7 linked regions of the Homo sapiens genome follow. The protein of the gene in region 1 interacts with the protein of each later gene in a pairwise test. Each region holds a gene or a part of one and is shown in the gene's direction. Other genes may lie near its edges. The genes, in order: PSMA6, TRIM39, LIMD2, ZKSCAN4, ZBTB44, PAXIP1 and ECT2.

Region 1 (3,500 bases):
CACCACCATACCTGGCTAATTTTTGCATTTTTAGTACAGACAGAGTTTCACCATGTTGGCCAGGCTGGTCTCAAACTCCTGACCTCAAGTGATCCACCTGCCTCGGCCTCCCGAAGTACTGGTATTATAGGCGTGAGTCACTGCGTCCAGCTATTTATTTTTTGAGACAGGGTCTCACTCTGTCGCCCAGGCTGGAGTGCAGTGGTGTAATCATAGCTCACTGTAGCCTCAAACTCTTGCACTCAAGAAATTCTCCTGCCTCAGCTTCTCAAGTAGCTGGGAGTACAGGTATACACCACCATGCTCAGATAACTTTTTATTTTTAGTAGAGATGACATCTTGGTGTTTCCCAGGCTGGTCTTGAACTCCTGGGCTCAACTGATCCTCCTGCCTCCATTCCCAAAGTGCTGGGATTATAGGTGTGAGCCGCCGCAGTGCCCAGCCTCTTTTTTTTTTTTTGAGATGGAGTCTCACCCTGTCACCCAGACTGGAGTGTAGTGGTGCAATCTCGGCTTGCTGCGACCTCTGTCTCCTGGGTTCAAGCGATTCTCCTGCCTCAGCACCCCAATAGCTGGGATTACAGGCGCCTGCCACCACACCTGGCTAATTTTTGTATTTTTAATAGAGGCAGTGTTTCACTATGTTGGTTAGGCTGGTCTTGAACTCCTGACCTCAAGTGATCCACCCGCCTCGGCCTCCCAAAGTGCTGGGATTACAGGCGTGAGCCACCATGCCCAGCCTCTTTTTTCTTAATTGGCCTTCATATACCATAGGTTGTCCGTATCTGCTCTAAACCATGATACTACTGTTTACCCTGCCAGTGTTTCTTTAAAAGATACTCTTTAGGTGTTGAGTTGTCTAAATTCTTTGCTCTGGCAGTTTCCATTTTTCTGGAAATTATTATAAAACATTTCATGGTGGTAGTGTTAAAATGGGGATTCATTTATACAAGCCTTTACTGAAATTACAGTGCAGCTTGATGAGTACTAAATAGTATAAAAAAGGTATTACAGGAAGTGACTAACTGCCTAGGAGAGCCGGGAAAGGCTTCTCAGAGATGAATTGGCCCAGATGAAGATTAAATAAGGAAATTTGGGGGACCAGTGCATAGATCAGTCAGTGTGAATGCAGTATAGACAGTAACAACTGAAAGAGTAAATTATAGCAATATTTTGAAGGGGCTTGAGTACCATGCTAGAGTTTGGACTTTTTTCCATGTGTTTTGAACAGAGCTAGCAGGGGTCTTTAAGAATGGCGAGGTAATTAAGTAAAATAATAGGAGAGTTGAGTGTAGAAATGGGATTAGAAAGGGACTGATGGTTCACACCTGGAATTCCAACACTTTGGGAGGCTAAGGCAGGAGGATTGCTTGAGGCCAGGAGTTCGAAACTAGCCTGGACAAAATAACAAGACCTTGTCTCTGCAGAATATATAAAATGAAATTAGCCAGGTGTGGTAGTACACACCTGTTGTCCCACATACTCTGGAGGCTGAGGTAGGAGGATTGCTTGAGCCGAAAGTTTCAGGTTGCAGTGAGCTACGATCACACCACTGCACTCCAGCCTAGACAACAGAGTGAGACCTTGTCTCAGAAAAGAAAATAAAAAGGGGACTGGTGGCAGGAAGAACAATTAGAAGAGGTTTGCTCAGTATCAGTAATTCATATAAACCCTAATGAGTGAATTAAGGTAATAAGAGAGAAAGGGTGGAGGGGTCTCTTGAGCTTATTTTTCACATTTTTATTATAGAATACTTTAGACAAATGTAGATAGACTAGTACAGTGACCTTCATGTACCCATCACACAGCTTCATCTGATGTCAATATTTTGTCAGTCTTGTTTTCTCCCTTTCCCACGCACTTTCCCCGCTCTTCTAGAGTACGTTAAAGCAAATCCTAGGTATAAGAATGGACATTTCTTGGGAAAGGGCAGGAGGTTAGAGTCAAGAGTGATAACCCAGGTTTGTAGCTTGAAAAATTGAGTGGTTAGTAATACAATTATGAAATAAGGACTGTAAGAAAAGCAGGTTTATAAAGAGGAAGAGTTTATTTTTAGACATGTCTGTGGCTAATAGGCATAGGTATTTGAAGAAATAGACATTTGTAATTATAAGTCCAGAGCTAGAGATGACAGATTAGTAGTGATTATCTAGGTTATAGCTAAATCTCTGGTTTAGGGTAAAATCATCCAGGGATGGAGAAAATAATAGAATTCTGGGAAATACCAGTATTTCAGGAGCTGGCTGAAGAGATGAAAGCAGTGAAGAAGATTGAGAAGGGAAGTTCAGAGAAGTAGGAGAGGAAGAGTAGGAATGATATTCTTAACAAAGAACTTTAAATTTGGCTGAGCGCAGTGGTTCACACCTATAATCCCAGCACTTTGGGAGGCCGAGGCGGGTGGATCACTTGAGGTCAGGAGTTTGAGACCAGCCTGGCCAACATGGTAAAACCCCGTCTCTACTAAAAATACAGAAAAACTAGCTGGGTGTGGTGGTGTGTGCCTGTAATCCCAGCTACTCAGGAAGCTGAGGCAGGAGAATCGCTTGAACCTGGGAGGCAGAGGTTGCGGCGAGCCAAGATTGCTCCACTGCACACCAGCCTGAGTGACAGAGTGAGACTCCATCTCAAAAAAAAAAAAACTTTAAAATCCAGTTGCTCAGTTACACTAGCCACATTTTATGTGCTCAATAGCCACATATGACTAGTGACTATCATATTGGACATTGCAAATATAGAACATTGCCAGCATCACAGAAATTTCTGTTGGACAGCACTGGTCTATATAAAGAACGAGGGCCCCCTTAATGAATCCTGGCAAATTCACAGGTGCATTCTCTGTTGAGAAGCATTTTTTATATGTAAAATGTTTTTTATTTTGTGAGACAAAAGTTTATGTGGTAGGGAAGATACTCTTTTGTGGCTTTTACCTTTTGCATTATTTAAGCAATAAGCATGTATTCATTTATTTAGTTCAGGGATGACAGACACAAATGCTTACACAGACCAGATAAGTAATGCCAGTGAGTAAAACAGGCTGAGTGAAAGATAACAGGAAATGGTGGGACCTGTGGAAAACTGCAAAACACCTGCTCAGCTTAGGTGATTTTTTTTTTCTTTGTGGCCAGTTGCTATGTGGGATTGAAGATCAAGTGTTACTAGAATTTTTTTTTTTCTAGGAAAAAATCACATCTCTAAAGACCCTCTGCCTGCTTTTGCCATATAAGGTAACATTCACAGGTTCCAGGGACTAGGACATAGATATATTTTGGGGATGCATTTACCAACCTACCAGAGGGTTAATGATTTTATTGGCTCAAAGAACCAGTTTTTGACTTAGCTGGTTTTTCTCTTGTTGTCTGTTACTGTTTCTTGATTTCTGGCCATGTTGTCCAGGCTGGTCTTAAACTTCTGGGCTCAAGCGATCCTCCCCATTCAGCCTCCCAAAGCAGTGGGATTACAAGCATGAGCCATCACACACAGCCAGAATCACTACAAATTTAG
Region 2 (3,500 bases), on another chromosome or scaffold:
GGCTCACTGCAAGCTCTGCCTCCCGGGTTCATGCCATTCTCCTGCCTCAGCCTCCCAAGTACCTGGGACTACAGGCGCCCACCACCACACCCAGCTGATTTTTTTTTTCTATTTTTAGTAGAGACAGGGTTTCACCGTGTTATCCAGGATGGTCTCGATCTCCTGACCTTGTGATCTGCCCACCTCGGCCTCCCAAAGTGCTGGGATTACAGGCGTGAGCCACCGTGCCTGGCCGCCCAGGCCTGTGTTTTTGAATATCCAGCAGAACATTAGAAAATGTTGCAGGTCAGTTCACTATGCCGGATTGTCTCACACATTGGAGGAGTGCTTGCGTCATTGTCAGGAACTTCCCCAACCATGGAAAACAAGAAGATGTGCCTATTTCCAAAATATCCTCAGAGTGTGTTAACAGCTTCATCAAGAACCACTGCCCTAAAATATAGAGTGAAAAAAAGAGAAAAGATTACCGGTTTATAAGAGGAAGGGCCTTTTTGCTTCCTATTTATCACAGTCATGAATGTTAAACTTACACCCATACCTAAACAAACACACATGCATGCACACACATGTGCAAACACACACACACAAAGGCTGTGTTTTATTGAGGGCAAATGTGAGAATATATTTTGTTCAGATGTACACTGAGAAGGCAGTGGTGGAAAGTGAAGCAGCAAGTGGCCCTAAACTAGAAGAGCTAGTCAGCCTCTGCCAGGAACTAGCTTGAATCCACAAATGCCACGCTTGTCAGGCCCATCCTGGCTTTGCATCCCCACTCTCTCTCCACCCTCAAGCCTGCCTTTCATTCCCTATCCACTTCCTTCTAGAGTCCCAGTCTCTGCTTCTCACTTTGCTTCATCATCAGTCACATGATGCTTGGGGAATTCTTTAGGGAGATCACTATTTGTTGTAGTGGAGATGCAGAAGAGAGGATGTGCTGATAATTCTCAGAAAGTGTTATGGCTGGTGTTTGAGTCCTATATTATCAAATTTCAGGAATGTTAGAGGCTTAAGTCTGTGTGCTGGCTTAAAGAAAGCATGTTTCAAATTTCAAGAAACTAAATTACTAACAAACTTCTGTAACCTGTTCCTGGGGTAGGAATTGCCAGTTCTCTGAAGTGACTTGAAACAATTTAACAAGTTCAGCCCTGAAATCTACATATGTATATTTTATAATAACCCATATAACTCTTACTGATTCTTACACTTTCCCAGTTCTCTGGTTTTTATCTGGTGCATGTGTTGCAATATGCAAAGGATGACAATCTTATTTTTAACTTTTTATTATTTGTACTTTCCTTTTTGTTTCGTTGTTTTTTGTTTGCTTGTTTTGAGACAGAATCTCACTCACCCAGGCTGGAGGGCAGTAGTGATCACAGCACACTAACTCAAACTCCAGTGTTCAGGCCATCCATCCTCTTGATTCTTTTTGAGTAGCTAGGACTGCAGATGTGCATTGCCATGCCCGACTAATTTTTTTTTCTTTTTAGTTGAAACAAGGTCTCACTATGTTTCCTAGGTTGGTCTTGGCCTCAAGTGATCCTCTCACCTGGGCCTCCTAAGCACTAAGTTTACAGGCATGAGCCACCATGCTGAGCCTATACTTTCCTTTTCTCGACAGATTGAATTAACTAGAACTTTACAGTTGATAATAACACAGATATCTCTGATATCTGTAATAGTTAATGTCATCATATTATTGAGTTCTTTATCTTAAATTAAAACAAATATATATATCCGCAGTGGTCTTCACTACCAAGTCATCAGTAGGGGGGTGATAGTGATGGAGCCATTCTTTACAGAAGGAAATTCCAATGGAATAAAAAATGAGTGTTCTGTTAAACCATTTTCTCTCATTTTCTTTCTTTCTTTTCTTTCTGTCTTTGTCTTTCTGTCTTTCTTTCCTGTCTGTCTGTCTTTCATCTCGATCTGTTGCCCAAGCTGGAGTGCAATGGTGCAACAATTTCAGCTTACTCCAACCTCTGCCTTCTTTGCTCAAGCCATCATCCCACCTCAGCCTCTCCAGTAGCTGGGACTACAGGCATGCACCACCAGACTCAGCTAATTTTTTGTATTTTTTGTAGAGTTGGGGTTTCACCATGTTACCTAGGCTGGTCTCAAACTTCTCATCCCAAGCAATCCACCTCCCTCGGCCTCCCAAAGTCCTGGGATTACAGTCATGTGTCACCACACCCAGCCTTTGTTAAACCATTTTCAATGAAACTGGAAGTCTGTGTTAATTCATACATATGGTGGGTGAGAGAAAGGCTTCCTTATACCACACTGACCCTGCTGATACAACATCTTCCCTCTCTTCTCAGAGACTAGTGGAAAGTCGCCGACAGCAGATCTTGAGGGAGTTTGAAGAGCTTCATAGGCGGCTGGATGAAGAGCAGCAGGTGTTGCTTTCACGACTGGAAGAAGAGGAACAGGACATTCTGCAGCGACTCCGAGAAAATGCTGCTCACCTTGGGGACAAGCGCCGGGACCTGGCCCACTTGGCTGCCGAGGTGGAGGGCAAGTGCTTACAGTCAGGCTTCGAGATGCTTAAGGTTCGACCTTTGCCCCTGCATAGCCCCTCAGGCTGAGTGCAGCGTAGCTTTGCGTAGCCTGGGATTTGTCAGCCTGGGATACTCATTCTTCTGCTCTCCTTCTCTAAATCCAGTTCTTTCTGCCAGGTGTACTCAAAGGGTCTTTGCTACGGAAAAGTGATTTCTCCCATCCCCTTCTAACCATTTTTGTGTTCTTATCTCTGGTCAGCAATTATGTGCTTAATCTGTTCCAAAGAAAAGATTCATTCTTTTGAAAGGAGGGAAGTCTAGCCTGAGTTAGTGAAAAACTATGCATTAAAAATTTTGTAAATGCAGTTACCATTACTTTTAAGTCCTGAAATTTGATTTATGTACTGCTGAAAAAGGACAGAAACATAGTTTAAAGGATACAGGCATACCTCAGAGATATTGTGGGTTCAGTTCCATACCACTTCAATAAAGCGAGTATCTTGATAAAGCAAGTCACATTAATTGTTGGGTTTCCTAGTGGAATCATATTTTTGCTGGTGGAGGGTCTTGTGTTAGTATTGACTGATCGAGGTGGTGGTTGCTGAAGATTGGGGTGACTGTGGTAATTTCTTAAAATAAGACAACGACGAAGTTTACTTTCAACTCTTCCTTTTATGAAAGATATCTCTGAGCATGTGATGCTGTTTAATAGCATTTTACTCACCAGTAGAACTTCTTTGAAAATCTTTGAAAACCCACATTTGCAGTTACTTACAACATGGGAGTCTTGAACCCCTAAAAGTCATCCATAAGGGTTGGAATAGACTTCTTCTAAATGCCTGTTAATATTGATATTTTGGCTTCCTTTCACAAATCACAAATGTTCTTAATGGCATCTAGAATGGTGAATCCTTACCAGAAAGCCTTCAATTTACTTTGCCTAGATCTATCAGAAAAATCACTATTTATAGCAGCTTTATGAAATACATTTATTAAGACTTG
Region 3 (4,073 bases), on another chromosome or scaffold:
AGAGAACAGAAGGCTGGAGAGGAGACGCGGAGCCGGTCCGTGGAGTCCGCCAGCCTGGGAAACAGCTGGTCGCTGGGGAAGCTGCAGCCTCCCTGCTCCCCTGCCAGGCGTCGGGCGAGAGCTGTTCTGTTCCCTGACAAGCGCGTGGGCCGCCAGTGCTATTCCTGCCACAGTGTGGGAAGGCGCTGGGCTAAGGGCTGTGCTTCCCGGAGCTGCTTCTAGCCTGATTTCCGGCCAAGCCACGCAGTCCCTGGTGCCCGGGAAGGCGCCGGCCTCGCCGCCGCTCCAAAGCGAGTGGCCGTCTCTCGCCGGCTGTGCCTCCGGCCTGCTGTGCGGCTGCAGGGAGGGAGCAGCTCTGCGGCCCAAGCTCTGTCACCTCAGCTCTCTGGGCCGCGGCTCCCACGTGAGAAATGAGGTGCGCTTGTTGGAGAGGGGGCCCCCGTTGCTGCCCACAGAATTCCGCCCCAGAAACGCTTGAGTACGTGGAGCCTCGGGGGACGGGTGCTCCGGGAACCACGCATACCGGCCTCCCCAGCCCGTCGCAGGGTTGCAGAGGCGCCGAGGGCTGGGGGGGCTGCCGGGGCTGCCGGGCCCTCGTGCAGGCTCCTCCCCGCAGCCTCGCGGCCGGGCCTGGAGACCGCGTGCCCGGACGCCGCCGCCAGCCTCGTGGGCCGCAAAGGGGCGGGGGCGGCCCCTGGCGGCGGGAGGACTCGGCCGCCCGAGGGACCCCGGGCCAGGCTCCGGGGTCGCCCCGGCTGGGTCTCTGCGGCCCCACAGCTCTGGGCGGGGATGGGGGCGCCGGCGCCTACGCGCGAGGCCAACCGGGGGAAACCGAGGCAGTGAATGGCCCAGGCCCCGCCCGGTTATCCCGGAGCCAGGCCGGGAGCGCCCAGTGTCCCGCGACCGCAGCCGCCGCAGCCTGAACTCGTCCCCTCCCAGTAGGATGCGGAGCGCGGCCCTTCCATCCTGTCCCTGCCACCGTTGCTTCCCCACGCCGGGCCGCCGTCGGGATGGGCAGACGGCGCGGCCGGTACCCGAGGCCTGCGAGCGCGAGGCCCGCGGGGCGCTGCGGAGCCGGGAGCGCGGAGCCGGGGCGGGGGACAGACAAAGGCGGGGACGGCGGCGAGGGGAAGACAAAGCGCGGAGGGGGGTCGGCGGCGGCGCCGGGGCCCCGAAGGCGGCTCCGGGCGCGGCGGAGCCAATGGGCGGGCGCGGGGCGGGGGCCGGCGGGGGCGGTGCAGCGATAAGGCGGTGGCGGCGGCGGTGGCTCGGGGACCACTGGTAGCGGCAGCAGCTCGCGCCCGCGCCCTCCTCGTACCCGTGCGCCCCCGGAGACCGATCCCGCCCCGCGGCCCAGGCCGGGCCTGGTGAGAGCCGCGGGGGGAGGGGCCGCGTCCGGCTCCGGAACCGGGAGAGGCGCCGAGGGGTGTGGGGTGAGGGCCGCCCGTGGGGTCCCGGCGAGTCTGCGAGCCGCTCTCGCCCGGGGCGCACAGGCTCGAGTCCTCGTTTCAGGGCCGGCCCCCGGCTGGGCGGAGCCGAGACCCGCTGGCGGGGCTCGCGGCGTCGGGGTCTGGGGTCCGGTCCTCGCGGGGCCAGGTCGGGGGCCGAGGGGCGGGGCGGGCGGGGACCTCGGGCGCTGTCCAGGGGCTGCGCAGCCTAGGCCTGGACGCCCGGGCGCGGCGCAGGGCAGCGAGGGCCGGGGTCAGGTCGGGGCAGCGGCTTCTCATCGCGGCCCCGCCGGCCCCGACCTCCCCTCACCCCAAGCGGTCCCAGCCCGCGGGACGCACACGGCGGCTGCGCGGGAGCCCCCGGCCCCTCCGCTCCCGCTAACTTTGTTCTTCCGAGGGACGGTGCCACTCGGGACCCCGGCCCCTGGGGAGCAGGGGTGGGGGAGGTGGGTGAGGGGCGGAAGTGGCAAGACCAAGAGCAACAGGAAATGACTTAGGGAAAGTCCCAACCGCAATCCCCCCAGCCCCTGCCTGTCAACACCCCCCACCCTGCAGGCTGGGGCCGGGCTGGCGGGGCCCTCCCGACTGACTTCCCCTTGCAGAACCCAGCGGGTGCCGCTTCTCCACCCGAGGCTTCCACCTCCAACGAGCCATGTTCCAGGCTGCAGGAGCCGCCCAGGCCACCCCCTCTCATGTAAGTGCCCGGCTGGGTGGGAGGGCCCCCCGGACAGGAGCCTGGCCTGGGGTGAAGGGGAGAGGCATCAGAGTTTGCCGGCCCCCTTTGTGCCCTGCGGCGCGCCCCTGGGCCTTGGGCTGATGGCTGCAGCCCTGATCCAGGGCCTCCCGGAGCTGCCCCTGCCCTGACCGCCCCTCTCCCTCAGGACGCCAAAGGCGGCGGCAGCAGCACGGTGCAGCGCTCCAAGGTAGGGGCCTGGGGCCGGGTGTGCGGGAGGAGGGGTGTGAGGGAGCGGGATGAGCACTGGGGCAGCACCTGGCTGAGCTTCCCGCACAGTCCTTCAGCCTGCGGGCCCAGGTGAAGGAGACCTGCGCCGCCTGCCAGAAGACCGTGTACCCCATGGAGCGGCTGGTGGCCGACAAGCTCATTTTCCACAACTCTTGCTTCTGCTGCAAGCACTGTCACACCAAGCTCAGGTGCGCCCCTGCCCTGCCCGCCCCCGCCTCGCCTGCCAACCCAGCCCCGACCTGACCTGACCTGACGCCGTTGTTTGGCTTCTGCAGCCTGGGCAGCTACGCCGCGCTGCACGGGGAGTTCTACTGCAAACCCCACTTCCAGCAGCTGTTTAAGAGCAAAGGCAACTACGACGAGGGGTTTGGCCGCAAGCAGCACAAGGAGCTCTGGGCCCACAAGGAGGTGGACCCCGGCACCAAGACGGCCTGAGGCCTCTGTAACCTTCCACCCCCTCTGCGGAAGGCCTGGAGCCGGCAGGGGGAAGGTGGGAAGGAGGTCGAGCTGGGCTTGCGTGGGGGCCAGGTGGGAAGGGGATGAGGCTTGCTCAGGCGTAGGGGACCAGGGCAGGGCTCTGCTCCAGGACTCCTTCCTTCTTCCTTCTCCCGCAGCCGGTGAGGGTTTGGAAACCAGGATTGGGGTCTGCCCACCACCCTGCTTCCTGCTTCGTTCAGCCTCCCTCCCCACCTCACCCCAGGACCCCCTGGGAGGCCCCCAAGCCCAGCTCCCCTATCTAGGTGCCTTTTCTCCAGCAAGGAGTCAGCATGCCCCCCTCAGGGTCCCAAGCTCCCTCACTGCCACCGGAGACTGTGTGGCCCCCACGTCTCCCCATCTACCTCTACCCTTAACCTGTTTCTGAGCCACGGAGACAGGGAGGAAGGAGCGCGACAGTGCCACCTGTTGGGCATCATAAATGCCCCTGCAGCCCATGGGGGAGGAGATGGGGAAGTGGAGCCACCCTGCCTCTGCAGGGCAAGGCAGGGCCTGCCCCAGTGGGGCTTGGGACCATCTCGAACCACCAGCGTGGAGAAGCAGAAGCAAAAGCACTCGCCAGGCTGCAGCCTCAGGCACTGGCAGGGGCTGGTGCGGCCCCACTCCCCTCCCCCGCTCCCATTTGTGCCCATCCTGTTGTGACCAACCCCGTTTTAAACATGTTTCAATAGATCCAGATTCTCTATTGTGTGGCCTGCTGGGGGATCTGTCACAGGAAGGGTGCAGACTCACCATGGGGCGGGCATGGGGGGACAGGGCCAGCCCCGACTACCTCGGCCCTGATGGGGGCAGGGAGCTAGAAGTGGGTGTCAGTTCCCTGACACACCATTGAGAAATGGGAGGGCTCCTCTTCACAGCGAGGGCTTCATGCTGTCACACCCACAGTGGTTTTGGAACTGAAACTCCACCTCACCCCTCAGTTCTGGGTTGGTTCAGACCCACCAACTTACCATATGCACCCCATTGTGAAGAGGCCTGAGAGCGGGAGGGCCAGGCTGCCAGTGGGTGATGGCGCCTGTCCTCGCTGCACTTCAGTGCCTGGGGTGCAAGCTGCCGCGTTCCCTGGCTGGTTCCAGCTGTCTAGCTCCCTCCCTTCTTCCCAGCCCTTTGACCTGGAAGTAAGTTAGCGAAGAATGGCGGTAACCAGCAGACCCAGCAAGTGCTGC
Region 4 (3,500 bases), on another chromosome or scaffold:
AAGAAAATAAGGCAGAATTTGTAAAGCCAGCCAGAACATTCCAGAGATAGTAGGACTGCTGCAAATAGAAGAGTGTAAATCTAAACCCTGTAAAGCCTGTGACTAGAAGAGTGAAAATCACTTAATAGGAAGCAGCTGTGTGTTCCATGCTGTTCCTCATCTGCTGTGAACATCTGGGCCGATTCCTAAGACATACAACACTTGGACATGCCATCCAACATGCAATCTTTATTTCTCAGCAGAGTTTCTGGCCTAAACCAACTTATTTTCTGCCCCTTGCAAATTGACTTATTGTAGGGAAACCTAAGGTTTCTTCTGCTTCTGAGTCTGAGCAAGTTCTATTTAAGCAGTCTTCCAGTCTTCCATTGCCTCCTTTCTGGACCCAGCCTTATTTGACTCCTCCTAGTTTTTCTTTTTCTTTTTTCTTTTTTTTTTTTTTTTTTGAGATGGGGGTCTCACTCTGTTATCCAGGCTGGAGTGCAGTGGTGAGACCTTGTCTCACTGCAACCTGTCTCCCAGGCTCAAGCAATCCTCCCACCTCAGCCTCCTGAGTAGCTGGGAGCACAGGCCCATGCCACTACACCTGCTAATTTTTTGTAATTTTGGTTCAGACAGGTTTCTCCAGGTTGCCCAGGATGGTCTCGAATTCCGGAACTCAGGCAACCCACCTGTCTCAGCCTCCCAAAGTGCTGCGATTACAGGGATGAGCCACTGTGCCTGGCCTCCTCCTAGTTTTTCATACCTGAAGTGGAAAGCATCCTAATATCTACTAAAGACATTTTAACCAAAACAAAACAAAAACAAAAAACCCTCTTTACTCCCCATCTCCTAGCAAAATTCAAAACCCAAAGGTCTTCAAATGGAAAGCTTTGTTATGTTGCATTCATTTCACCACTCCTACCAACGATTCTGCACGTGGTTTTTGTATATCTGCAGAGTGCACCAGACTTCTTTCGGCCCTAGGGCTGGAGCTGGTGGGAATCAGGCATTTTTGAAAGGAACACATTCTGTATAAACTTATTGGCAAGAACTTACTGCCCCAGTTTTTGAACTTGGATTTTGCAAGGTGGGGAGGCTGAATACTAGGGTAGTTCTCATCCAGAGCTTCTTTCTTTCTTAGTTCTCCAGGTTCCTGGGCTTGCCCAGGGAGGGTGCTGCAGAGAAGATGCAATGGTAGCTTCCAGGCTCACTCCAGGGTCCCAGGTGAGCTGGAGCTCCTCTCCCTCCCCAGCGCCCCATACCTTTCACTACTGTTGGGCTCCGCATTAAGTTCCTCCCTCCCCAGTCCTACCCCACCCCTATCCTAGATCTACATGAATTTGAGTTTTCTCATCTATCCCAAAGTTGCATATAATTGTCCACCTTCATTTTGGTGCCCACCTAAGAGGACTTTCCTGTTTCACAACAACCTTGGAGTTTTCTTTGTACTTCTCAGATCTTTCCTCCTACATTTCTTCGGTCAGCCTCTTCTTCAATGTGATTTTTCTCCTTCAACAAGGGCAGTTCCGCAAAAGCAAACTGAAGGTTTTGTTGGGATGGTCATTCTGTTTTGCTTTTTAAGATACAATAAGCTGTGCTGTTGGTGAGGGATATAAAGGCCTGGCCCTTGCCCTCAAAGAACTTATACTTGAAAGGTCAGATAAGGCATAGTTATCTTGAAGTTATTTATATTACAATATGAACAATCTTTTCTCAACCTAGATTTCAATTTACTACTCAGCCTTTCCTGTCCTGCTTGAAGATCTCAGTGTTTGAGGCTGTGTAGTATCCTTTTTTTCCCCTAATTTTTCTCACTTCAGTTCTAGATTTCATTGTATTTTTGAAGCTATTAATGTAAATGAACCCCTACTCTCACTTTGCCAAAGCATACTGCAAATCTTTTGAAAATTTTGGACATAGTTCCATTCCTTTTGCTGCATTGACCCTTGTCTTCCAAACCTTTTTACTTTCTGGACTGTTTAGATATTTATATGAAAGTACTTATCCTAAAATGTGTGTAATATTTCTTTCATTTGGCAGGTTTTCTTGATTAAGATGTTATTAGAGATAAAGCTAAATTGGTGTAGGTGTGCCACACTTGCTCCTTTTTAAAGAGCCTCTTTAAAGGGGATGTTCATTCTTTGCTTTGGGGGTAATTTTGGGCAAGAGGAGCTAGTTAGGACTACCTATTGTTTTAGGGTTTGCTGAAAATGGAAGATGTGGCCCTGACCCTCACTCCTGGGTGGACACAGCTGGATTCATCTCAGGTGAACCTCTACAGAGATGAAAAGCAGGAGAACCATAGCAGCCTGGTCTCCCTTGGTAAGACTGAGACACTAATTTGTCTTAAGATTTCTTGGCATTCTTTGCGTATTAGAACCTATTGGGCTGTTAGAAGCTGTTAAGCCCCCATTATGTTTGGATTCAGAATCACCATTCCTGAAAGCCTGTTACTGACTACTAGCTCCTTACTCCTTCTGACCTTGCTTTCTCCTCTGTCATGCCAGTGTTCTAGTTAGGATAAGTGGGGTGAAATTGATACAACTCCTTGTACAGGTCTGGCTCATAGGAGATGCTCAGTAAATGTTGATGTCCTCTTGTTCCTATCCCTGACTGAAGAGGAAAGCTGCGGGGAGGGGGGGGCCTCTTCAGGAAATGGGCCATGGATTCAGAACGTGAGAGCCAGAAGCAACCTTAGACATCAACTACAGACCCTGACCTTAGGGGTGAGGGTGCAGAGGCGTAGATTACCTCACTTGTTTGAAATCTCATAGCTTATTTGTGGCACAGTGGGGGCTCTACCTCAGAACTCCTAGCGCCAATGCCAGTTCTGTTTGAGAACTTTGCCTCTGCCTGGGCACAGTTAGAGATGACGGTCCATGTCATTGATCGATCACCAGTCACCAGTTTCTTTGCTTTTGCCATTTCTTGCAGGTGCTTCAGAAATCCTTCCACTTGCCCTGTTACTGTCACCCTCTGCTCACCCCTTTCAAAATCTAATCCTAGGTGCATGGCCCTGCTTACTATTCTTAGAGCTTAGAACCATCACATATGTCCCCTGCATAGTCCTGGGTCCTCACCATTTTCCCTCCACTCCCAGTTTGTACCCTTCCAATGGCCCCATTCTCATTCTCAGGCCTCCTTCCTCCCCAGCACCCCTGTTCTCCCTTTTTATTCCCATTCTTATTCTAGCACTTAAATCCTCATCCTGGGCATATATAGACTTCTGTAATTCTTGTCTCCCTAGTACTCATCACAGAGCTTTCCTCCCATGGCAGGGCATAACCCACAGTTGCCGGCCATTTGTTGTTTCAGGTGGTGAAATACAGACTAAGAGCAGGGACTTGCCTCCAGTCAAGAAGCTTCCAGAAAAGGAGCATGGGAAGATATGCCACCTGAGGGAAGACATTGCCCAGATTCCTACACATGCAGAAGCTGGTGAACAGGAGGGCAGGTTACAAAGAAAGCAGAAAAATGCCATAGGGAGTAGGCGACATTATTGCCATGAATGTGGAAAGAGT
Region 5 (3,500 bases), on another chromosome or scaffold:
GTTTCTAGATTCATGAGGAATCGCCACACTGTCTTCCACAATGGTTGAACTAGTTTACAGTCCCACCAACAGTGTAAAAGCATTTCCTATTTCTCCACATCCTCAACAGCATCTGTTGTTTCCAGACTTTTTAATGATCACCATTCTAACTGGTGTGAGATGGTATCTCATTAAATTTCCATATGAAATTTAAAGGAGTTTTTTCCAATTCCGTGAAGAAAGTCAATGGTAACTTGATGGGGATAGCACTGAATCTATAAATTACTTTGGGCAATATGGCCATTTTCACGATATTGATTCTTCCTATCCATGAGCATGGAATGTCTTCCCATTTATTTGTGTCCTCTCTTATTTTCTTGAGCAGTGGTTTGTAGTTCTTGAAGAGGTCTTTCACATCCCTTGTAAGTTATATTCCTAGGTATTTTATTCTCTTTGTAGTAATTGTGAATGGGAGTTCACTCGTGATTTGGCTCTCTGTTACTGGTGCACAGGAATGCTTGTGATTTTTTATCACAAAGTGTTCAGGAATAAAAGTCCAGGGCTGGTACAGTGAATCTGCAATATAATCAGTGGCCTAGGCAACTTGTATATTTATAAACTGCCATCTTTACTTTGTTGGTTTCATCCATAAGATGCTCATTTCATCTTCAGCTTTGTATTCTAGAAAGGGGCAATGCTTTGTATCAAGAAAGCACCTATGTTCTCAGAAATCCCTAAAAAACTTCTGCTAGTCTGTGTCACATAGTCTTTCCTAGCTGCAAGGGAATCTGGGAAGATAATGTATATTAGTTGGGTACCTAAATGCCTTGAACAAAATTAGAGCAAAATGGATATTGAGTATGCAACTAGCAGTGTCTGCCACAAGTAGGCCAAGTAAGCTTGGATTTTATCTTAGTGGTAGGTAGTAAGGAGTCTACATTAAAGGGATAAAAACAAAAACATGCAGATATTTTAGGAAAACTGTTATTGACATGCAGTGAGTTTGGTTTTACAGAGACAGTCTCAGAGACCAATTGCAGTGCACTTATCTTGGTGTGAATGAAGACTTAAAACCATGTGAAAGAAAATAGATATTACAAGACTTTGTAAAGAAAGACTTAGTACCTGATGATACTGAATATGTATATTGAAAGAACAGGAGAGGTTAAAGTACTCTGATGACTAGGAAATAATGGTAACACTTTATTATATTCCATTGATTCTAAGTCACAATTTTTCATATTTTGTTATTTCTGAATCCAGATATGTCTTACAGTTGGCAGTCTTCTACAGTTGCTTTTTTCTTCCTTAGTGCTATAGAGAATAATGGCAATCATATGAATCAATAGCATTTTAGCATCTATTAAATGTAGTTAGTGCCGTATGAAAATCAGTGGAAGGTGGTGGGAATCCAGTTTTGAGAGTAAATTATCAAGGTCACTTCTGTGTAAATTGTGCTTGGATGATGATCAAGCAGTGTCATTTCAAAAGCAGTAGAAAAGATAAGTGAGATTCCCAACTTGGGACTTTTCTACTAGTAGTGGCAAATTCAATCTCAATAGGAAAAACAGAAGAGCCAAAACCAAGGGGATACCTTGGGGAATACCTATATTCAGGTTTGGGAAGGGATAGAAGAAAAGCCACTAGTGAATAATAAAGATTTGTCCAAAATATTGGAGAACCGGGAAGACCATATTAACTTTGTTAGTTTCTTGTGCTTTTACCCTCTGTGTGAGTTTCCCTGGGCTGCTGCAACAAAGTACCGCAAACTGAATGGTTTAAAAAAAATTTATTCTCTCATAGTCAGAGGCCAGAAATCTGAACGACAGGTGTTAGTTCCCTTTGAAGGATCTTTCTCTCTTTGAAGATTGTAGGGAAGAATCCTTCCTTGTCTCTTCCAGCCTGTGGCAGCTGCCCACAATCCTTGGTGTTCTTTGGCTTGTAGCTCCAGTATATGATATTGTGCTTTAGTATATGCGTTCGTCTTCACATGACCTTCCCTGTCTCTCTGTTTTGCCACTGGCTTCAAATCTCTCTCTCCCTAAAAGGACACCAGTCATTGGATTCAGGTCCCACCCTAATCCAGCATGACCTCATCTTAACTTGATTACATCTGCTAAGACCCTATTTCCAAATAAGGTCACATACATTGGTAGCAAGGATTAAGATGTACTTTTTCTTTTTTTTTTTTTTTTTTTTTAAGATCTGGGATGCATGTGCTGAACATGCAAGTTGTGTTTTTGGGTATTTTATTTTCTTTGTAGCAATTATGAATGGAAGTTCACTCATGATTTGGCTCTCTGCTTGTCTATTACTGGTGTATAGGAACGCTTGTGATTTTTGCACATTGATTTTGTATCCCGAGACTTTGCTGAAGTTGTTTATCAGCTTGAGTTTTGGGGCAGAGACAGTGGGGTTTTCTAAATATACAATTATGTCATCTGCAAACAGAGACAATTTGACCTTCTCTCTTCTTATTTGAATACCCTTGACTTCCTCTCTTCCTATTTGAATACTCTTTCTTTCTCTTGCCTGATTGCTCTGGCCAGAACTTCCAGTACTGTGTTGAATAGGGGTGGTGAGAGAGAGCATCCTTGTCTTGTGCCGGTTTTCAAAGGGAATGCTTTCTGCTTTTACTCATTCGGTATGATACTGTCTATGGATTTGTCATAAATAGCTCTTAATATTTTGAGATATGTTCCATCAATACCTAGTTTATTCAGAGTTTTTAGCATGAAGGGGTGTTGAATTTTTATTTTTAATTTTTATTTATTTATTTATTTTTGAGACGGAGTCTCACTCTGTCACCAGGCTGGAGTGCAGTGGTGTGATCTCAGCTCATTCAAGCAATTCTTCTGCCTCAGCCTCCTGAGTAGCTGGGACTACAGACGCATGCCACCACACCCAGCTAATTTTTGTATTTTTAGTAGAGATGGGATTTCACCATGTTGGCCAGGATGGTCTCGATCTCTTGACCTCGTGATCCGCCTGCCTCGGCGTCCCAAAATGCTGGGATTACAGGCGTGAGCCACCACGCCCAGCCAGGGTGTTGAATTTTATTGAAGGCCTTTTCTGCGTCTATTGAGATAATCGTGGTTTTTGTCATTGGTTCTGTTTTACGTGATGGATTACGTTTATTGATCTGCGTGTGTTGAACCAGCCTTGCGTTCCAGGGATGAAGCCAACTCGATCCTGGTGGATAAGCTTTTTGATATTCTGCTGGATTCAGTTTGTCAGTATTTTATTGAGGACTTTCACATCAATGTTCATCAGGTATATTGGCCTGGTATTTTCTTTTTTTGTGTTGTGCCTCTGCCAGGTTTTGGAATCAGGATGTTGCTGACCTCATAAAATGAGTTAGGGAGGAGTCCCTCTTTTTCTGTTGTTAGGAATGGTACCAGCTTCTCTTCGTACCTTTGGTAGAATTCAGCTGTGAATCTGTCTGGTGAATCTGTCTGGTGCTGGGCTTTTTTTGGTTGGTAGGCTATTTCAGGAGAGTTTATAGCATGAAGGGGTGTTTT
Region 6 (3,500 bases), on another chromosome or scaffold:
AAAGTCCATAGTTACATTAGGGCTCACTCTTGGCCTTGAACAGTCATTGGGTTTTAACAAATGTGTAAGGACATGATTTTGCTTTACAGCGTCATATGGAGTTGTTCCACTGCCCTGAAAATCCTCTGTGCTCCACCCACTCATTCCTTCCTGCCTGCTGACCCCTGGCAACCACTGATCTTTTATTCTTTCTATAGTCTTGCCCTTTCCAGAATGTTACATATTGGGAATCATACAGTATATAGGATTTTCAGATTTGCTTCCTTTGCTTAGCAATATACGTCCCAGCTTCCTCCATGTCTTTTCATGGCTTCATAAAGCATTTCTTTTTAGCACTAAATAATATTCCATTGTCAGAATGTATCTGTTCAGCCCCTCACCTACACAAGGACATCTTAGCTGATTCTAAATTTTCGCAGTTAGCAGTAAAGCTGCTAAAACATCCATGTACAGGTTTTAGTGTGGACGTAAGTTTTCAACTCCTTTTGGTAAATCAACAAGGTTGCAATTGCTTGATCATATGGTAAGAGTATGTTTAGCTTTGTAAGAAACCGCCAGGCTGTCTTCTGAAGTGCCTGTGCCATTTTGCATTCCCACCTGCAGTGAATGGGAGCTCCTGTTGCTCCACATCCTCCTCAGCATATGCTGGTGTTAGTGCTCTGGGTTTTGGCCATTCTAATAGGTGAGGTCCAGGTTACTTCTTATTTCTTTCATGGATTGTGTCTTTGGTGTTGTATCTAAAAAGTCATTGCCAAACTCAAGGTCCCTTAGATTCTCTCCTGTGTTATCTTCTAGGAGTTTCATAGTTTTGCATTTTACATTTAGGTCTGTGTTCCATTTTTGGGTCAGTTTTTTTTAAAAGAGGGTAAAGTCTGTGTCCAGCTTCCTTTTATTGCATATGGATGTGCAGTTGTTCCAGCATCATTTGTTGAAAACACTCTTTTCTCCACCTGTTTTGGTAGGTGCATGTTTTTGGGATTTTATATTTATGTGTAACTTACATAAAATTTGAGACATCAATATTATAATCAATTTCTAGGATACTCATTTCTTTTGTACTTCCATGAAAAGTTTAATGTTCAGGTTGAGTCTTTACATTGCTACTACTAAGGTAACATAACCCTGTTTGAAAAAACCAAAATCTCAATGTCTCATCTGTGACAGGATCGTCTTAGCTGTATTACTGTATTTTTCAATATTACTTTCTTTTCTTTTTAAGACAGAGTCTCACCCAGTCTGTTGCTCAGGCTGGAGTAGAGTGGTGCCATTGGCTTACTACAACCTCTGCCTCCTGGGTTCAAGCCATTCTCCTGCCTCAGCCTCCCTAGTAGCTGGGACTGCAGGCGCCCACCACGACGACGCCTGGCTAAATTTTTTTGTATTTTTTAGTAGAGACAGGGTTTCACCATGTTGGCCAGGCTGGTCTTGAACTCCTGACCTCAAGAGATCCGCCCACCTCGGCCTCCCAAAGTGCTGGGATTATAGGCGTGAGCCACCGCGCCCGGTGGTGTTTTCTCTATCATAAACATTAACTATTCTTGGTGATCTCACACAAGTTCTTCAGAAGGCATATCAGCTTTGAAAGTAACACTTCAAATATACCATCTCATGTGTAACAGTACTTTTTTTGTTCCTTTTTTAATTCATCATTTTTTGTTTTTCCAAATTTTAGACATTCTTTTTCTCCTTTCACCTAAAAAGCAGCCTTTCTATCTGCTGGTTGACTCAGGGATTGATTTTGTATTTCTGGCCGTTGGTGAACAGATCCCTGCATTTCTGTCATGATGTGGTTGCTCCTGCCCAGCAGTCAGCAAACTGGTCCATACGCTGAAAATGGTTTTTACATTTTTTAAATATTGCTTAAAAAAGAGAAGAGGAATATGCAGGAGAAATAATACATAGCCCACAAATCCTAAAATATGTATCATCTTGTCAACCCCAGTTTGCCAATCCCAAATCACTTTTCCTTGTTTTCTGCTTTTGATGTATATATTATTGGGTTTGAGCTGCCTTATTATGCTGTATGGTTGGTAGGAAATGGCGGCGGAGGAGAAATGGTTTTCTGAATATGAGGCATATTTATAGGAAGATTGAAACATTTTGTGATCTTTACCTTTTGACACATTTCTTAAAATGTTGCTATGAAAACTGAAAATCTGTCAATTATTAATAATTGTCAGAAGTCTTTAAAAATTGATAAAACTATCCTTTATAAATTGCTGTATACTTTTATATACTTGAATGTGTGTTTGGTAAATCTTTAAAGTTTGGTAATTCACATAATTGATTATGAGCCAAATGACTCCAATGTCCTACAAGTCCTTGAGGAGTTAGTGTATATATATAACATATATATATATAATATACACTTGGATGGGATTATTTGAAGCTTGTCTTTCTAGGACTGGAGATTTTAACCTGAGATCTGCGGGCTTGGAAAGTTGGTGAACTTCCTAAAATAGTCGGGGGGTAAAGAGGGGAGGAGCAGCTATGGGAAGAGGGTTCATATTTTTCAGTAATTTTTTTTTTCTTTTTTTACATTTTTGTTGTTAAAAAAAAAAAAATTACTATTATTTTGAGACCAGATCTCACTTTGTTGCCCAGGCTGGGGTGCTGTGGTGCAATGATGGCTCACCACAGCCTCGAACTTCCCAGACTCAAGCGATCCTCCCACTTCAGTCCCCCGAGTAGCTGGGACTACAGGCACATGCCACCATGCCAAGCTGATTTTAAAATTTTTCTGTAGAGATGAAGTCTCACTGTGTTGCCCAGGCTGTTCTCGAACTCCTGGCATCAAGCAGCTTTCCTTCCCCGGCTTCCCAAAGTGCTGGAATTACAGGCATGAACCACCACACCCAGCCCGTTTTTTTCAAGAGTTTATGACCCCAAATGGTTAATTACCACTGATCTAGGAGAAAAAATACCTGTCTGTCTTTTTGGTCTGGCTGTTTTTAGAGGGAAGTAAATGAAATATAATGGTGACATTTAAATATCCGAAGGCTGTACAGGTAAATGTAGCTGTAATATTATGTACCTGAATATGGGCGAGAATTTTGTGGGTCACACTTGCCACACTTCACGTGTCCACACTTTTCAGAGTATGTGCTGTTCTGTTTTCCAGATGAGCAGAACTACATTCTCCGAGATGCTGAGGCAGAAGTACTTTTCTCTTTCAGCTTGGAAGAATCCTTAAAACGGGCACACGTTTCTCCACTCTTTAAGGTACACTTTAAGGGAAAAGTAAATCAGTCCAAGTAAGCATAACACACGGACCTGCTCAAGGGAACTACCAGGTGATTTGGTGGGAAGTGCGCCTCCAGGGGAGCTGGGCTCACCCTGCATCCCATTTACCTCTTGGCTTCCTTCTTGGACATTGCCACTGGAGGTCTTCCTCCTGTGAACCACAGCACATCTCTAGAGAACTTTTCTTTACTATAATGTTTAAAAATAAGTACACAAATTTAATAAATACATCTATGAGAAATAAGTTATTCAAAGAA
Region 7 (3,500 bases), on another chromosome or scaffold:
ACCCCTCATCTTAACACTTTCACTGTTGGCCAACAGTTGCATTTTTAGGGCTATGTTTAAGGTACGGGTCAGGAATAGATGTGGGTGCAATAAATAAACTCAGAGTAACTGGTAGACTTGATATGGAGTCATATGTGTATTAAGGAATGTTTTACTCTAAACTTTGGTAGTGTTACAGAGCAGGTTCTCTGAAGGCCTGAAATTGCTGAAAATTTATACCTACCTACAACAGTGTCATCTGTTTAATTGACACCCAGTGGTGTATGTGCATGGCCATATTTTGGATGTTAGGCATATGTTTTTACAATATTTAGCTCTTTCCATTACTGATTCCTCTAATAATGAAAGGTTTCAGTTTGTGAGAAATTATTCTTTTTTTTTTTTTTTTCCTTTATAAGAAATGATTCTTTCTTTGTTTTTTGTGGGTTTTTTTTTTTTTTTTTTTGAGATGACGTCTTAGTCTGTCACCCAAGCTGGAGTGCAGTGGCGCAAACTTGGTTCACTGCAGCTCCCGCCAGGATTCTCCTGCCTCAGCCTCCTGAGTAGCTGGGATTACAGGCGTGTGTTGTCATGCCTGGCTAATTTTTTTGTATTTTTAGTAGAGACGGGGTTTCACCATGTTGGCCGGGCTGGTCTTGAACTCCTGACCTCAAGTGATCCACCCACTTCGGCCTCCCAAAGTGCTGGGATTACAGGTATGAGCCACTGCACCCCGCCAAGAAATGATTCTTAAAGAAAACTTGAACAGCAACTTCCTGCTCTTTTCACTTAGTTGACAAATTCTGGATTTATTAAAGGTTACATAGTATAGTTGTCCCTTGGTATCCACGGGGGACGGTTCCTGGACCTCCCTTGGTTACCAAAATCTGGGATGCTCAAGTCCTGGATGTAAAATTGCATAGTGTTTGCATGTAACCTATACACATCTTCCTATGTACTGTAAGTCATTTCTAGGTTACTTATAGTACCTACACAGTGTAAATGCTGTGTAAACAGTTGTTATACTATATTGTTTAGGGAATGATGACAAGAATAAAAAGTCTGTACATTTTCAATACAGATACAATCTGTTTTCTACTGTTTTTTTCTACTATTTTCGGTCAGCAGTTGATTGAATCCACAGATGCAGACCCACAGATACGGAAGGCTGACTATATATTTGTTTTAAAAATCTTCATTTTTGGATTTTAATTATGGCAGACTTTGTTTAAAATAGGTTGTATTTTAGCATCTTGATCGTGCAACTTTTGTAACACTTAATATTTTTATCATAGAAAATATTAAATGACATGGATAATACTGTTTACTTAATGTCATTAACTTATCATCATCATTAGTTCCTTACGTGGTATACTATATTGTGTTTTCAGTACTTCAACTTAATATGGTGATGTTCTTTGTCTTATTAAAAATAGGACAAGGAAAGTGGAGAAGTGATAGTTCATTTCATTGGAATTTCATTGCTCTGAGGGAACTAAACTTGCATACATCTGTCATTTTCCAAGGAGTGACACTTAATGTTTATGGTTATTCTGGAACCCTAGATTGCCATAATGCTTTTGCCTTGCTTGTGAGGCCACCAACAGAGCAGGCAAATGTGCTACTCAGTTTCCAGATGACATCAGATGAACTTCCAAAAGAAAACTGGCTAAAGATGCTGTGTCGACATGTAGCTAACACCATTTGTAAAGCAGATGCTGTAAGTTCTTAAAACAGTATTATAATGAAAGTTTAAATTTCATGACAGTGCATTCAGACTAAACCTGTACATTTTTAATGACTTGTTTATTATGAATGGAGAGTTTTAGTTTTGTGTATATTAAAAAAACTGATGTAATAAGTTGTTTTAGAAAATATTTTATATAGTGTAGGTACACAAAATATTATTTGAGTTCTTGGCTTACATAAGGTAGGCCCTCATAGTCTTATAGCCCCTGTGGCTCTGATTCAGTGAAGATTTTGGGACTTCTTGTAATGTACCCTGTGATTTTTCATTGATACTCTTAGACATGGCTAAAAATTAGAGAGTATTTAGAGATGGGGTTTCACTGTGTTGCCCAGGCTGGTCTTGAACTCTTGAGCTCAGGCAGTCTGCCCACCTTGGCCTCCCAAAATGCTAGGATTACAGGCGTGAGCCACCGTGCCTGGCCAAAAAAAAAAAAAAATCTTATTGAAAGCAAGTTGAAAATGAAAGTTGCCAATCTATTTTTCTCATGTGAACCTCTTAAAAATGAAATGCTATCATAAATATATAATTATCATTATACTATACAGATTAAAGTGAAAATAGATGAGAGAATCAAAATAGGGAAGTTAAATGACTTGCCTGAAATCAGGTATCCCTGGATGAAATCCAGGTCCCTAAAAGATAATTTGATTTCTTCCTCTCTATATATGAGAGAGACACATGTGATAGACAGATATAGACCTCTTACTCTTTGCACAAATGACATAGATTGAAGAGAATATATGGATATAATAGATGACCCTTTTCGGTACAATGGTACTGTAACTGAGATTGCATTGGGTGTTTCTGTGGGAATGAAACATGTAATTACAGTTAAGTGTGAAACCTTGGAAGACATTTAGGTTTAATGTGGTTTATAAAGTAAGTATTCATTGATGAAAACCTCCTTCCAAAGTATTTAGAACAATAATCAGACTTTTTGTTTGTGTGTGTGTGTGTTTAGATTTCTATGGACCAATAATATGTTCTTATAAATAAAAAATTGTTGCACAAAAGATTCAGAGAGGGAAATACAATGCTAACAAATACAATAGAATGCTAGCTAGAAAAATGATGGAGACCACTTTTGTTATAAATCTTTCAAAACTGCTCATTGTAAGGTTTTTTTTTGTAGGTATCCATCCACTTTTTCTAGGTATCCATATATAAAATGGTTTTATCTGTAGAAGTTCCTTAATGCAGAAATTACTCCTGCTCTTATCAGAATGTCAGACTAGATAGTTTATAGAGTCCTTTCCAAACTTATAACCCTAATACTGAAATGAAACATTAACAGAAAATTTTTCTTATAATCTATTGAATTACTAGCCACATGATGGCTAATAGTACTAGAACTGAAATATAATAACATATGGAAGAAATTCATAAGTAAAATTAGCCACAAGATGGCAGCAAACGTTTAACTATGTTCTGACTTATCCTTACACTACAAAATTCTTTCAATCTATTGAAATTTTGTTCTTAAGAAATACGTTTGTAAATTCAGGTACTCGGTGACTTTGGTTGAGCCCTTTCCTGCGTTTAAAGTTCTACATATAGTAAATGTTTATAAAGCCCTGAGAATTTTTCCTGTGAAGATAATGTGTGTGTATATCTACACACACACACACACACACACACACACACGCACACACACACGTGAAAGATGTAAAAAGATATAAAAATCTCTGATTCTTTGAATTAGTAATTTTTGTTTTTGGTACCCTGTATATATATAATTTTTTGGTACCCTAAGTAACCTGAGCTTTCTTAA

Evidence for each region.
Region 2: the proteins of PSMA6 (region 1) and TRIM39 interact in binary tests that used the Homo sapiens proteins (3 or more experiments, as listed by UniProt).
Region 3: the proteins of PSMA6 (region 1) and LIMD2 interact in binary tests that used the Homo sapiens proteins (3 or more experiments, as listed by UniProt).
Region 4: the proteins of PSMA6 (region 1) and ZKSCAN4 interact in binary tests that used the Homo sapiens proteins (3 or more experiments, as listed by UniProt).
Region 5: the proteins of PSMA6 (region 1) and ZBTB44 interact in binary tests that used the Homo sapiens proteins (3 or more experiments, as listed by UniProt).
Region 6: the proteins of PSMA6 (region 1) and PAXIP1 interact in a two-hybrid assay, tested with the Homo sapiens proteins (one large-scale study listed by BioGRID).
Region 7: the proteins of PSMA6 (region 1) and ECT2 interact in a two-hybrid assay, tested with the Homo sapiens proteins (one large-scale study listed by BioGRID).

What each region holds. Positions count from the first base shown.
Region 1 is NC_000014.9:35,298,882-35,302,381, forward strand, and holds part of PSMA6 (proteasome subunit alpha type-6), read left to right. Parts: intron 1-3,500. UniProt on the Homo sapiens protein: Component of the 20S core proteasome complex involved in the proteolytic degradation of most intracellular proteins. This complex plays numerous essential roles within the cell by associating with different regulatory particles.
Region 2 is NC_000006.12:30,333,427-30,336,926, forward strand, and holds part of TRIM39 (E3 ubiquitin-protein ligase TRIM39), read left to right. Parts: intron 1-2,318; coding exon 2,319-2,549; intron 2,550-3,500. Other genes in the region: TRIM39-RPP21 protein, read left to right, coding at 2,319-2,549.
Region 3 is NC_000017.11:63,697,326-63,701,398, reverse strand, and holds the start of LIMD2 (LIM domain-containing protein 2), read left to right. Parts: upstream 1-1,273; 5' UTR 1,274-1,367; exon of another isoform or gene 1,368-1,596; intron 1,597-2,050; 5' UTR 2,051-2,100; coding exon 2,101-2,142; intron 2,143-2,329; coding exon 2,330-2,371; intron 2,372-2,460; coding exon 2,461-2,600; intron 2,601-2,687; coding exon 2,688-2,847; 3' UTR 2,848-4,073. UniProt on the Homo sapiens protein: Acts as an activator of the protein-kinase ILK, thereby regulating cell motility.
Region 4 is NC_000006.12:28,245,770-28,249,269, reverse strand, and holds part of ZKSCAN4 (zinc finger protein with KRAB and SCAN domains 4), read left to right. Parts: intron 1-1,120; coding exon 1,121-1,203; intron 1,204-2,177; coding exon 2,178-2,301; intron 2,302-3,294; coding exon 3,295-3,500. UniProt on the Homo sapiens protein: May be involved in the transcriptional activation of MDM2 and EP300 genes.
Region 5 is NC_000011.10:130,255,918-130,259,417, reverse strand, and holds part of ZBTB44 (zinc finger and BTB domain-containing protein 44), read left to right. Parts: intron 1-3,500. UniProt on the Homo sapiens protein: May be involved in transcriptional regulation.
Region 6 is NC_000007.14:154,947,625-154,951,124, reverse strand, and holds part of PAXIP1 (PAX-interacting protein 1), read left to right. Parts: intron 1-1,634; exon of another isoform or gene 1,635-1,827; intron 1,828-3,034; exon of another isoform or gene 3,035-3,121; coding exon 3,122-3,222; exon of another isoform or gene 3,223-3,227; intron 3,228-3,351; exon of another isoform or gene 3,352-3,432; intron 3,433-3,500.
Region 7 is NC_000003.12:172,806,226-172,809,725, forward strand, and holds part of ECT2 (protein ECT2), read left to right. Parts: intron 1-1,544; coding exon 1,545-1,699; intron 1,700-3,500. UniProt on the Homo sapiens protein: Guanine nucleotide exchange factor (GEF) that catalyzes the exchange of GDP for GTP. Promotes guanine nucleotide exchange on the Rho family members of small GTPases, like RHOA, RHOC, RAC1 and CDC42.